2 separate regions of the Homo sapiens genome follow, and region 1 is linked to region 2. Evidence: fine-mapped expression QTL. A gene starts in region 2. The other region holds a variant in brackets. All regions are shown on one strand. Distances are from middle to middle.

Region 1 (5,000 bases), 52 kb before region 2:
GAAAACTTAGTAAAAATAGAGGAAGCCTACTGGCCACAGAACAGAGAGTGTGTTTACAGATGAAAGTCAAATTATTATGGCTTGTTAAAATGAGTATCTCATTTAAAAAATACTATTCTTCATCTTCATGATTTGTTCATCTTAAAGATTAGGCAACAACTTTTGCTATGTATGCTCTCCTTTCCAAGAGAAAGTTTCTGATTCTCTGCCAAGTAATCCCATTTCTTAAAATAAGACTGCTTTATCTAGGTCATTTGGATTCTGATTCCTTTCTCTTAAGAGAGAAGGAGCCCACTGGACCTCATCAGCTGCAGCCTGAATAGTCAGTTCACAGTTTTTCAGATCCTGGTGGGTGTGTGAGATGATGGGAGAATCTCCTCCATACATTAGTGTCCATGAAGTTTTACTAACTTGTCAAGTGTGAACTGACCTTTCTGCTTCAGCCACGTGAGTGTGGGAGTTTCACTGAAAATATTCTTGAAGTGGAGGGGGTCTTTTTACAAGGTTGTAAAATGTGGGCCTTCTGGTGCCTGCCTCTTAGGTGACTCCAAGAGAAGCAATTCTGGAAATTCAATAGCCAGGGAAGGAAGCACATGACCAGGGGCTTCAGCTTGAAATCAAAACCTGGTACATTTGAGACTAGTTATTTGGTGCCCTCCCGGAGAGTCAGGCCCAACTTTTTCAATAATGACACTGCAATCCGGTCATCTGTGAGATTTGATGGTTTACTTTTCAGGTGGGAGAAAGGAATGTTGGTCAGTTTGGCTGAACTGGTTGTTGACTTCTGGAGAGAGCCGAAGCTCTGCTAGCTCATTGGAACTCTTACCCAGGCTAATTTCCCTCGGCCAGATAAAGAGGGAAGCCTTATCTGCCTTTTAAGTCTTTCAGGGTTGGGCTGTTTTCCCCTTAAAGATGCCTATGACAGAATGGGAGCAAGACATGTCTTTGGCAACGAAATAAATGAAAAATGATCACAGAAATTAAAAATAAATCAACGTATGCATGCATCCCTTGCCCCAAGCATGAATCCAGCAAAAACCTAATGTTTAGGACTGAACAAAGGTATACCTTTGCATCATCTATGGGAAAGAAATAATTGTCTAAGCAAACTATAAGCATATGCAACTCTGCCTCAGTTGTGTCAAGTCTAAGGGAGATGGGTGAGTAGGCCCCAGAGGGCTGCCTCACCCTGACCACTGGCTGGTAGACAAGGTAAGTTTTATTACAAATGGCATCACTTCTTCCTCTGTTACGTAAGTCCTGAGATTTGTGCATCAGCCTACATTGCTGAACTTCCGAAGTCGTGATTCTGCTCCAGCTCCACCTTTTGAAGGGTATCTCTTTCTCCATCTCTCACACAGACACACAGATACACACACACGCACATGCTCTCTTTTTTTCTCTAATATACAGAAGGCGGGCAGAAACAGCTGGGAAAGTAACAGTCAGTGCTCCACAAAACGGGGTCGCGTGACTGTGAACATCAGTATCTCCTGGGAACGTGATAGAAATAAAAATAGTTCTGGGCCCCACCCAGACCTACTGAATCAGAATCTGGGGATGGGAGGAGAGTAGAGAAGCAATCTGTTTTTTATGAACCTTCCAGGTGATTCTGATACCTACCCAAGTTTGAGAGGTGAGGACCCAGGTGACTCGGGGGTAACTTTTAGCTTTCTGGAAGATGACTAAATTTTACCAAATGATAATGGAAATGTATTCCTAAAATCTAAACAACATAAACTCTTAAGGTACTAAGTTATTTAAGTTATTTGTAAGTTATCTAAGTTCTTCCTAATCTCAGAAATCGATTAATGTAGTGGTTTTCCCAAGCCTTTCTCATTATTTCTCTTGGGTGTCACTGGCATTGACTTCCACTAAAAAAAGATCCCATGGTCAAATGACTTTGGCATACATACAACTGGATAAAAACAATATAAAACAGTTTTTCCTGCAGAACTCTTCTGAGTCTGTAATATGCTGACACTTGTTTTTAATCTTCAAGATAAGGATACAGAA[C/T]TTTTCATCATGGGATAGTTTTTTCAAGGAACACATCATAGAACGTATGGTCTACGGATCACCATTAAAGTTATCCATGGTTTGCCTAAACAGCTTCCTGATTCATTACGAGAATATTCCCCAAACAAGAAAAATGAAACATACTTTAAGTACCTGGAAAGGATCTGTTTTTTGAAAAGCATACACCCAAGTTTTACTTTTGAAATCCTAAGGTCTTGGTTTTGAAAACCCCAGGCGCTAAGGAAATTACATGTTTTAAAATCCTAAAGGTTGAGGAATTAATATTCTAAACTTCAAATTTTTGAATAATCATGACGTTATTGGCAAATACATATAAATAAACATATAACCGGAACACGTTTTTCCCCTTTATCCAATGGAAATACGATCAAGCATCACTCTTAGCAGAAGACTACCAGACACTTGTAGGGACACGAAAAGTGATAATAAAAACAATTTATTTATTGAATGCTTGCTATAGACCAGATGCTCTTCTAAGCACTTTGTAATTATTTTATCTTGAAAGCAGTCCTGTATTTATAATCATTACCTCTTCTTACAGATGTGGAAGACGTGACTCAGTTTCCTGATTACCCAGGGTCACATAACATGTGTGGAGAAGGCAGGATTTACCACCTCAGTCCGCAGTTCATGCTCTTAACCATAATGCTGTACTCCTCAAACCTGCCACTCGAGAGCTTGGAATGTAGGGGGAGAACAAAGACAATAAAAAGATAAACTAGCAATACAAGGCAGGATGTGGTGAGGGCCAAATGAATGGGCCACAAACACACACCTCTGGGTTGAAAGGATGGTGATGTTATAGCAGATCTCAGGACCCTCAGTATAACTGGTTCTGGGAGATGTTCCATTAGAAAGTTTTTCAGAGGAAGGCCGGGCGCGGTGGCTCACGCCTGTAATCCCAGCACTTCGGGAGGCCAAGGTGGGCGGATCACAAGGTGAAGAGATGGAGACCATGCTGGCCAACATGGTGAAACCCCGTCTCTACTAAAAATACAAAAATTAGCTGGGCATGGTGGTGCATGCCTGTAGTCCCAGCTATTTAGGAGGCAGAGGCAGAATAGCTTGAACCCGGGAAGTGGAGGTTGCAGTGAGCCGAGATCATGCCACTGCACTCCAGCCTGGGAGACAGAGTGAGACTCTTCCAAAAAAAAAAAAAGTTTTTCAGAGGCAAATCACAGCTATTGACCCAAGAGTGGCTCACACCTGTAATCTCAGCACTTTGGGAGGCCAAGGCAGGCAGATCACCTGAGGTCGGGAGTTCCAGACCAGCCTGACCAACATGGAGAAACACCGTCTCTTAAAAAAAAAAAAAAAAAAAAAAAAAAAAAAAAAAAAGCCGGGTGTGGTGGCGCATGCCTGTAATCCCAGCTACTCGGGAGGCTGAGGCAGGGGAATTGCTTGAACCCAGCCAGGAGGCAGAGGTTGCAGTGAGCCGAGATCGCGCCATTGTACTCCAGCCTGAGCAACAAGAGCAAAACCTCCGTCTCAAAAAAAAAAAAAAATCCGAGAAAGCATGAATCTGTTGTGCTTTGCCACAGTTGACATTGCACTTCAGGAGGATTATTTTCTTTTATGAAGGTATGTAAGTGTCCTTGCATGCCTAGACTAAAATGAGGTTAGGGCTTCATTTGGCAAAGACGTTTGGATTCTGATTGCAAGTTAACCCTGAGTCCGATGCTGAAAAACGAAAAATGGTTTAAGATGTGCCCCTGCCCTTGGAGTCCACAATCCAGTTAGGGAAATAAGATAGTATATTCTTTATTTATTCCTGTCTTTCCTCAGAATGGGTGGAAGCCCAGCGATAAGATGTTAGCATAAGGCCTTTCGTAATTCAAACCCTGTATAAATACTTTCAAATGTCAGATGTTGATATAAAAATGATTTGGTCACCTGAAATTTGGGAATCTAAGCCAGGGTTCAAGGGCACAGCCACTGTGCTAAGTAATCTCAGCCACAGCTACTGGCCAAGAACACATTTTGTCCTGTACGGCACGTGATTTTCCTGTGCCATTTGGCTTTGCATGAGGTGCCAACCCTATTGGGCCTGTGAGACGCTGAGACTGAATGGCTCCCAAGATCCCTGCTTGTAGTACTGGCAGTGGTCATCACAATGGCAGACACCCCCAAGTTAGATTATACTTAGTTGAAAGCCTTTAAACTGGATACTTAGAATTCCTTTGGGTTTTGTTTTGTTTTGATCATGTTTATTGCATTTCATCAAGTATGTTTTGTTGTGAGATAGAGTCAGGTACGTAAAGAGCTTCTCATTTGTGATGTATCCGATGCCAGGTGGCACATTATCAGGATGTAACCTGGATTGTTTGTACAGACATGGTCTGTGGGGAAATCCTAAGTAAGGGGGAGGCAAAGGCAGGACGGAGGTGAAGAGTATAGACTCCGGAGTTGCAAAGAACTGAATCAGAATTCTGGCGTGGCCTTTTCCTTGCAGTGAGACTTGGGGCATGTTACATAATCTCTCTGATCTCTGAGTTCCCACATCTGTGAAATAGTGATTATTATAACACGTATCCCATAGGGTTATTGTGAGAGTTAAATGGGATCATTCATATAAAACATTTCTGTTTAAAGTATTATTACTGCTAAGAAGGGGTTAGCAACCACTGAAGTCACGCATGTGCTAGAGGAAGCTGCTACAGTCTCTACCTGAGCCATTGGTCAATTGTTGTCGATGGTTGACACCTTCCCATTTTCACAGTGAAGTGAGTATTCTAAATGCCACATCTTGTCACTGAGGTTCATGATTAAGTAGATCAGCTAGCATTGCTTATTCCCTTCTAGCCTGTGACTGTGACCCCAGGGGCATTGAGACGCCACAGTGTGACCAGTCCACGGGCCAGTGTGTCTGCGTTGAGGGTGTTGAGGGTCCACGCTGTGACAAGTGCACGCGAGGGTACTCGGGGGTCTTCCCTGACTGCACACCCTGCCACCAGTGCTTTGCT
Region 2 (5,531 bases):
CCTGACACTGTATCTAAAATTATCTCTCTTCCTCCCTATTACCTGCTTTAATTTTCAGTTACTTCCCAAAATATTTATCCATTACTTATATATTGTTTGTCTTTTATCACCAAATTACAAGTTTCATAAGAGCAGGGTTTTTTTACCTTGTTCACCGCCTGGAACACACTAGCTCAATATACATTCAAACGAATAAATACATGAACAAATGAACTATAAGACACTTAACATAAGTTATTCCAATATTCACTTGCTTTTACATTGAAATAGAAAGGAACTGTCAGCTAATGTGATGAAAAAAATGTTTTACTTAAGTACTTACTCGGCTGATCTGCGTAAGTTCTCAGAGGCACTGCAGAAAGTCCCTGTAGGCCATGAGATATTCGATTGAAATGGCCTCTCTAGAAAAAGAAAATGTCCCTATTATGTAAGATATGAATTCAAAACATAGAACTACTGAAGGTTGATGATAACAGAACAATTTTGGGCAAACGTATCAAGCGAGGATTATTAGTGTATCTTCTTCCATTGCCACACAGAAGCTACAGATCAATATCCCCTCTTTGACAATAACTAATCATTTAAATTTTTCAGCCTCAGCTTGCCACACCCATCTTTTTATTATCAATAGTCAACAAATCATCTCATATTTAACTTAATTTTAAAAACGTATTCAATGGTATTTTTATTCAATTTTCAGAAAACATGGCTAATTATTAGTGCCAGGGATCATTTTAATGTCATAAAGCTCTGAGCCGGCCGTGGTGGCTCACGCCTGTAATGCCAACACTTTGGGAGGCTGAGGTGGGCGGATCACCTGAGGTCAGGAGTTCGAGACCAGCCTGGCCAACATAGTGAAGCCCCGACTCTACTAAAAATACAAGAAAATTAGCCGGGTGTAGTGGTGGGTGCCTGTAATCCCAGCTACTCGGGAGGCCAAGGCAGGAGAATCACTTGAACCCGGGAGGCGGAAGTTGCAGTCAGCTGAGATAGTGCCATTGCACTCTAGCCTGGATGTCAGAGTGAGACTCCGTCTCAAAATAAATAAATAAATAAATAAATAAATAAAGCTCTGAAAGTTCTAACTTAAATACTTGAATAATCTATACATGATAATCTTTTTACCTGTAATTTTTGTTTCCTAACTCTAAGCTAGCGTGTATATACAGTCCGTATTTACTTAGAACAATCTATGAAGATGTTCCTGAGACATCAACTAGGAATAGCAAATTAGACAAGGTAACTTAGGAAAATGCACCAAGTAATGTACTTACGTTCTGGTGCTACTACAGTTTGACAAATTGCATCATAATCTCCCTAATCTCTATATGTGGACGGCTACCATTTCCTAAGGGCAATGAGGCAGAAAGCAAGCAAGCAAATAACCCCTGCTCACAGCAGGAAAATGGGCGGCAGTGACAAAACCTACACTGATGTTTCCTATTCCAAGGCAACTCTTAACATTTGAGGTCAGGACAGCAAACCCAAAAAGCAGCAGATTGACAATCCTGAGTTTCAGTCCCACCTCCGCCGCTCCCTAAAAGCATGACTTGCAGAATGTTACATTAACTTTTGAGAACTCAGGTTCCTCATCTCTGAAACAAAAGGGTTTGATCGCTATATTATTTTTAAGGTCTCCACTAACATAGTACCCAGCCACGGTGCCACATACACACAATTTGGCTGTATCTGGTAAGCAGATTAAAAAGGAGAGTTGTTCTGATAACCTGCTGCAATTAAAGATTTAAGCCTCCAGGAAGTCGTGAGAGATGGCAATGAACACCAGTTGAAAGCTGCCAACACTGACAAGACCTTAGGGGAATTCCGAGGGCTATCTGTTGGAGCTGACTGGATCTAAACCATTCAAGAAGTGACCCCAGGGTTACCTGCCCACTGCATAAACTTAGGCCACTCAGGGATCAGAATTAGGATGAGAAAAAGGCAAATGGTATAAAAAGCCAGACTATACGGGACATGGGTGGCTTACACTTCCTCCAAGGTAGAGGCCTATGTGTGACCGGGATGGCCCTCGGCCCAGGCTTGGGGGTGTGGCATGTGTGACCGCCGGCCGTCACACAACCCGAAAGGACTCGCCACAGCCTGGGCCCAGCCCCGTCCCTCGCCTGCTGCAGGATGAGCGGCCACCTCGGAGCCCAGGGCCGGGCTGAGCCAGTGCAGAGGCGGGGCCAGGGGTGGTGCGGCCCAGGCGCCCGCCTCCGCCAGCCCAACACGGTTAAGCCGCGTACCGGACCCACTGAGCGGGACCTTCCGTGCCTCTGGCTCAACACGACCTCACCTACTCGGCCCTCACCTTGGCCAAGGAGCAGTACACACGACTCCAGCTCTGCATTTTTCCGCTGTATTTTCCTTTCCGCCAATACTTTCACCTCCGCTGGGCGCCTCCGCCGCTCCGCCAAGGTCTCCCCTCCCTGCGCATGCACAGGCGCAGCCTACGTCATCACCCGGGAGCAGCGCGATTGGCCCGCGCGGTTCTACCGCACGAGGCGTTCCTGTCAGGCTCGGCGTCGTACGCTGTCGTAAGGAGCGCAGGGCTTTGTCGCAGCGGGGGTGGTGGTGGGAATGCTTTAGGGGCTGGTGCCAAAATGTCGAGCTACAATGTATTCTTATACTTAGAAGATGAAATAAACAAATAAAACTAGCGTTTGCTTAATGCACATTATCGACAGTAAAGCGTGACAAGTTCAACAAGCTCTTGGTTGTGCTAGGCATTCCTCGGCACTTCCTACAGACATCTCATTTCATCCTTGCAACAACCATATGGAGTATTATTAGTATTTCCATTTCTTGGATGAGACCCAGAGAGGTTAAACAGTGCCCCCAAGGTCTCACAAAGGAGAGATAACTGCGGCCCTGAGGCCAAAACCTTTGGTATTATCTACTGCTTTATACTCGCTCCTCTCAAATGCCATATAAGGGATGGGGCTACAGATTTTGGCATCACCAGCATTCTGCTCTAATTAGCTAACTGACAATACGTAGAGAACACACTTTCTTCTATTTCTTTAGTTGAGAAACACATCTCCCTGGTAAAAAGAGAGTGGGATGGTGGATGAGATTTTAGGTTTTGAGAGAGAATCTGTTGAAAAGGGTTGAAAAACATTGTCTTCAAGATTGAGCACGAAAGTCTAAGGTCTCATTCTTGCCTTGCAATAAGTCTATATAGTGTGAATAAACTTAATTCTACATTTATTGGAAGTCTACCACCCAGGCCTTGTGCTGGGCTAAACACTGGTTAGAAATTACTGCCTATGTTCAGATTTAGATATGAATAATTAAATTTAGTGTTTGTTATAGAGACGGTATTGCTGGCAGCTCTGTCCTGTGACAGGGTCCCAGGCTCCTTTTATCTCGTGACTCTGCCATCATCAGAGCTTGCCTTGCATCTTTCATTCAAGATGGCTGCTCCAGTTTCTACAATCATATCCCCTCATTCCATCTGATTACAAAGCCACACCTAGCTGCAAGGGGATCTGTGAAACATAGTCCTGTCAGCTGAGTGCCTAACTGAAATTGTATTAATAAGCAAGATGAGATGAAGCGAAATTGGGGGACATTGAGCAGCCTCCACCACACAGATGGGGAGAATTGTCTCCTCTCCAGCTTCATGGCAGTCTTTGACATCTGGTCTAGGAGTTACTGCTCCATATGCACAAAATCTCACAATTCTTTCCTGAACTTTCTTGGGCTTTGTTCCCTACTCCTTTGTCCAAAATTACAATATCATATTTTTATTTTTAAAAAATGAAACACTTCCATCCTTTCCAGCTGTCATTCACAAAGCCTAGGGGCTCAACCCAGTATGAGAAGTGAGGCAGGAAATAGATTCCTTACTGCACTCACCATATTTCTCCACATTCCTCCTCATCTCTTGTACCAACTATACCTCTTCTCCTCTCAGCTAGAACAAAAGCCACAACGCATATAAATTAATGCGAACACACGGGAGGTGGAGGGAGCGATGTCAACAATGGACAGCCCACACTAGCAGTGTTTATATTCCAGCTAAGGAATATAACCAGAAATTGGACCACACTTATTTTGCTAACTTGATTTTTTTCACTTAAAACTATCTCATGAGCAACTTTCCATATTCATATTGTGTCCAGAATTGGTGGGTTCTTGGTCTCACTGACTTCAAGAATGAAGCTGCGGACCCTCGCAGTGAGTGTTACAGTTCTTAAAGGCGGCGTGTCCGGAGTTTGTTCCTTCTGACGTTTGGATGTGTTCGGACTTTCTTCCTTCTGGTGGGTTCGTGGTCTCGCTAGATCAGGAGTGAAGCTGCAGACCTTTGCGGTGAGCGTTACAGCTCTTAAGGCAGCGCGTCTGGAGTTGTTCATTCCTCCTGGTGGGTTTGTGGTCTCACTGGCTTCAGGAGTGAAGCTGCAAACCTTCGCTGTGTTACAGCTCATAAAGGCAGTGTGGACCCAAAGAGTGAGCAGCAGCAAGATTTATTGCAAAGAGTGAAAGAACAAAGCTTCCACGCTGTGGAACGGGACCCAAGCGGGTTGCCACTGCTGGCTCAGGCAGCCTGCTTTTATTATCTGGCCCCACCCACATTCTGCTGATTGGTCCATTTTACAGAGAGCTGATTGGTCTGTTTTACAGAGAGCTGATTGGTCCATTTTGACAGGGTGCTGATTGGTGCGTTTACAATGGCTGAGCTAGACACAAAAGTTCTCCAAGTCCCCGCTAGATTAGCTAGATACAGAGTGTCGATTGGTGTATTTTCAAACTCTGAGCTAGACACAGAGTGCTGATTGGTGCATTTACAAACCTTGAGCTAGATACAGAGTGACGATTGGTGCATTCACAATCCCTTAGCTAGACGTAAAGATTCTCCAATTCCCCACCAGATTAGCTAGACACAGAGTGCTAATTGGTGCATTTACAAACCTTGAGCTAGACACAGAGTGCCGATTGGTGCATTCACAATCCCTTAGCTAGACATAAAGATTCTCCAAGTCCCCACCAGATTAGCTAGATAAAGAGTGCCGATTGGTGCATCCACAAACCCTGAGCTACACACAGGGTGCTGATTGGTGTGTTTACAAACCTTGAGCTAGATACAGAGTGCCGATTGGTGTATTCACAATCCCTTAGCTAGACATAAAGATTCCCCAAGTCCCCGCCACATTAGCTAGATACAGAGTGCCAATTGGTGCATCCACAAACCCTGAGCTAGACACAGGGTGCTGATTGGTGTGTTCACAAGCCTTGAGCAAGACACAGAGTGCTGATTGGTGCACTCACAATCCCTTAGCTAGACACAAAGGTTCTCCAAGTCCCCACTAGACTCAGGAGCCCAGCTGGCTTCACCCAGTGGATCCTGCGCTGGGGCGGCAGGCGGAGCTGCCCGCCAGTCCCGCTGTGTGCCCGCACTCCTCAGCCCTTGGGCGCCAGTGGGCCAGCACTGCTGGGGGACCTGGCGCACCCTCTGCAGCTGCTGGCCTGGGTGCTAAGCCCCTCACTGCCCGGGGCAAGTGGGGCCGGCCAGCCGCTGCGAGTGCAGG

Direction of the effects. Positions count from the first base shown, and alleles are read on the strand shown. Sizes are in standard deviations (SD) of each study's normalised expression.
With allele T in place of C in region 1, the expression in breast of the gene that starts at base 2,418 in region 2 is higher (small effect, 0.12 SD a copy in GTEx).

What was found. PIP is the estimated chance that this variant, and not a neighbour inherited with it, causes the effect.
Region 1: its variant is the best candidate, but not a certain one, in a credible set for the expression of DLD in breast (GTEx, PIP 0.58).

What each region holds. Positions count from the first base shown.
Region 1 is chr7:107,940,198-107,945,197 of GRCh38, reverse strand. LAMB1 (laminin subunit beta 1) reads left to right here. Exons shown (of 34, transcript NM_002291.3): 25 at 4,840-5,000. Among named protein-coding and RNA genes, the nearest start is that of DLD, 52 kb to the right of the region's middle. The variant C/T (reference allele first, on the strand shown) is at 2,017.
Region 2 is chr7:107,888,070-107,893,600 of GRCh38, reverse strand. It overlaps DLD (dihydrolipoamide dehydrogenase), which reads right to left and starts at 2,418. Exons shown (of 14, transcript NM_000108.5): 1 at 2,312-2,418; 2 at 323-401. The coding sequence starts at 2,350. RefSeq lists a silencer at 2,078-2,187 and enhancers at 2,248-2,487, 1,998-2,680, 2,638-2,717.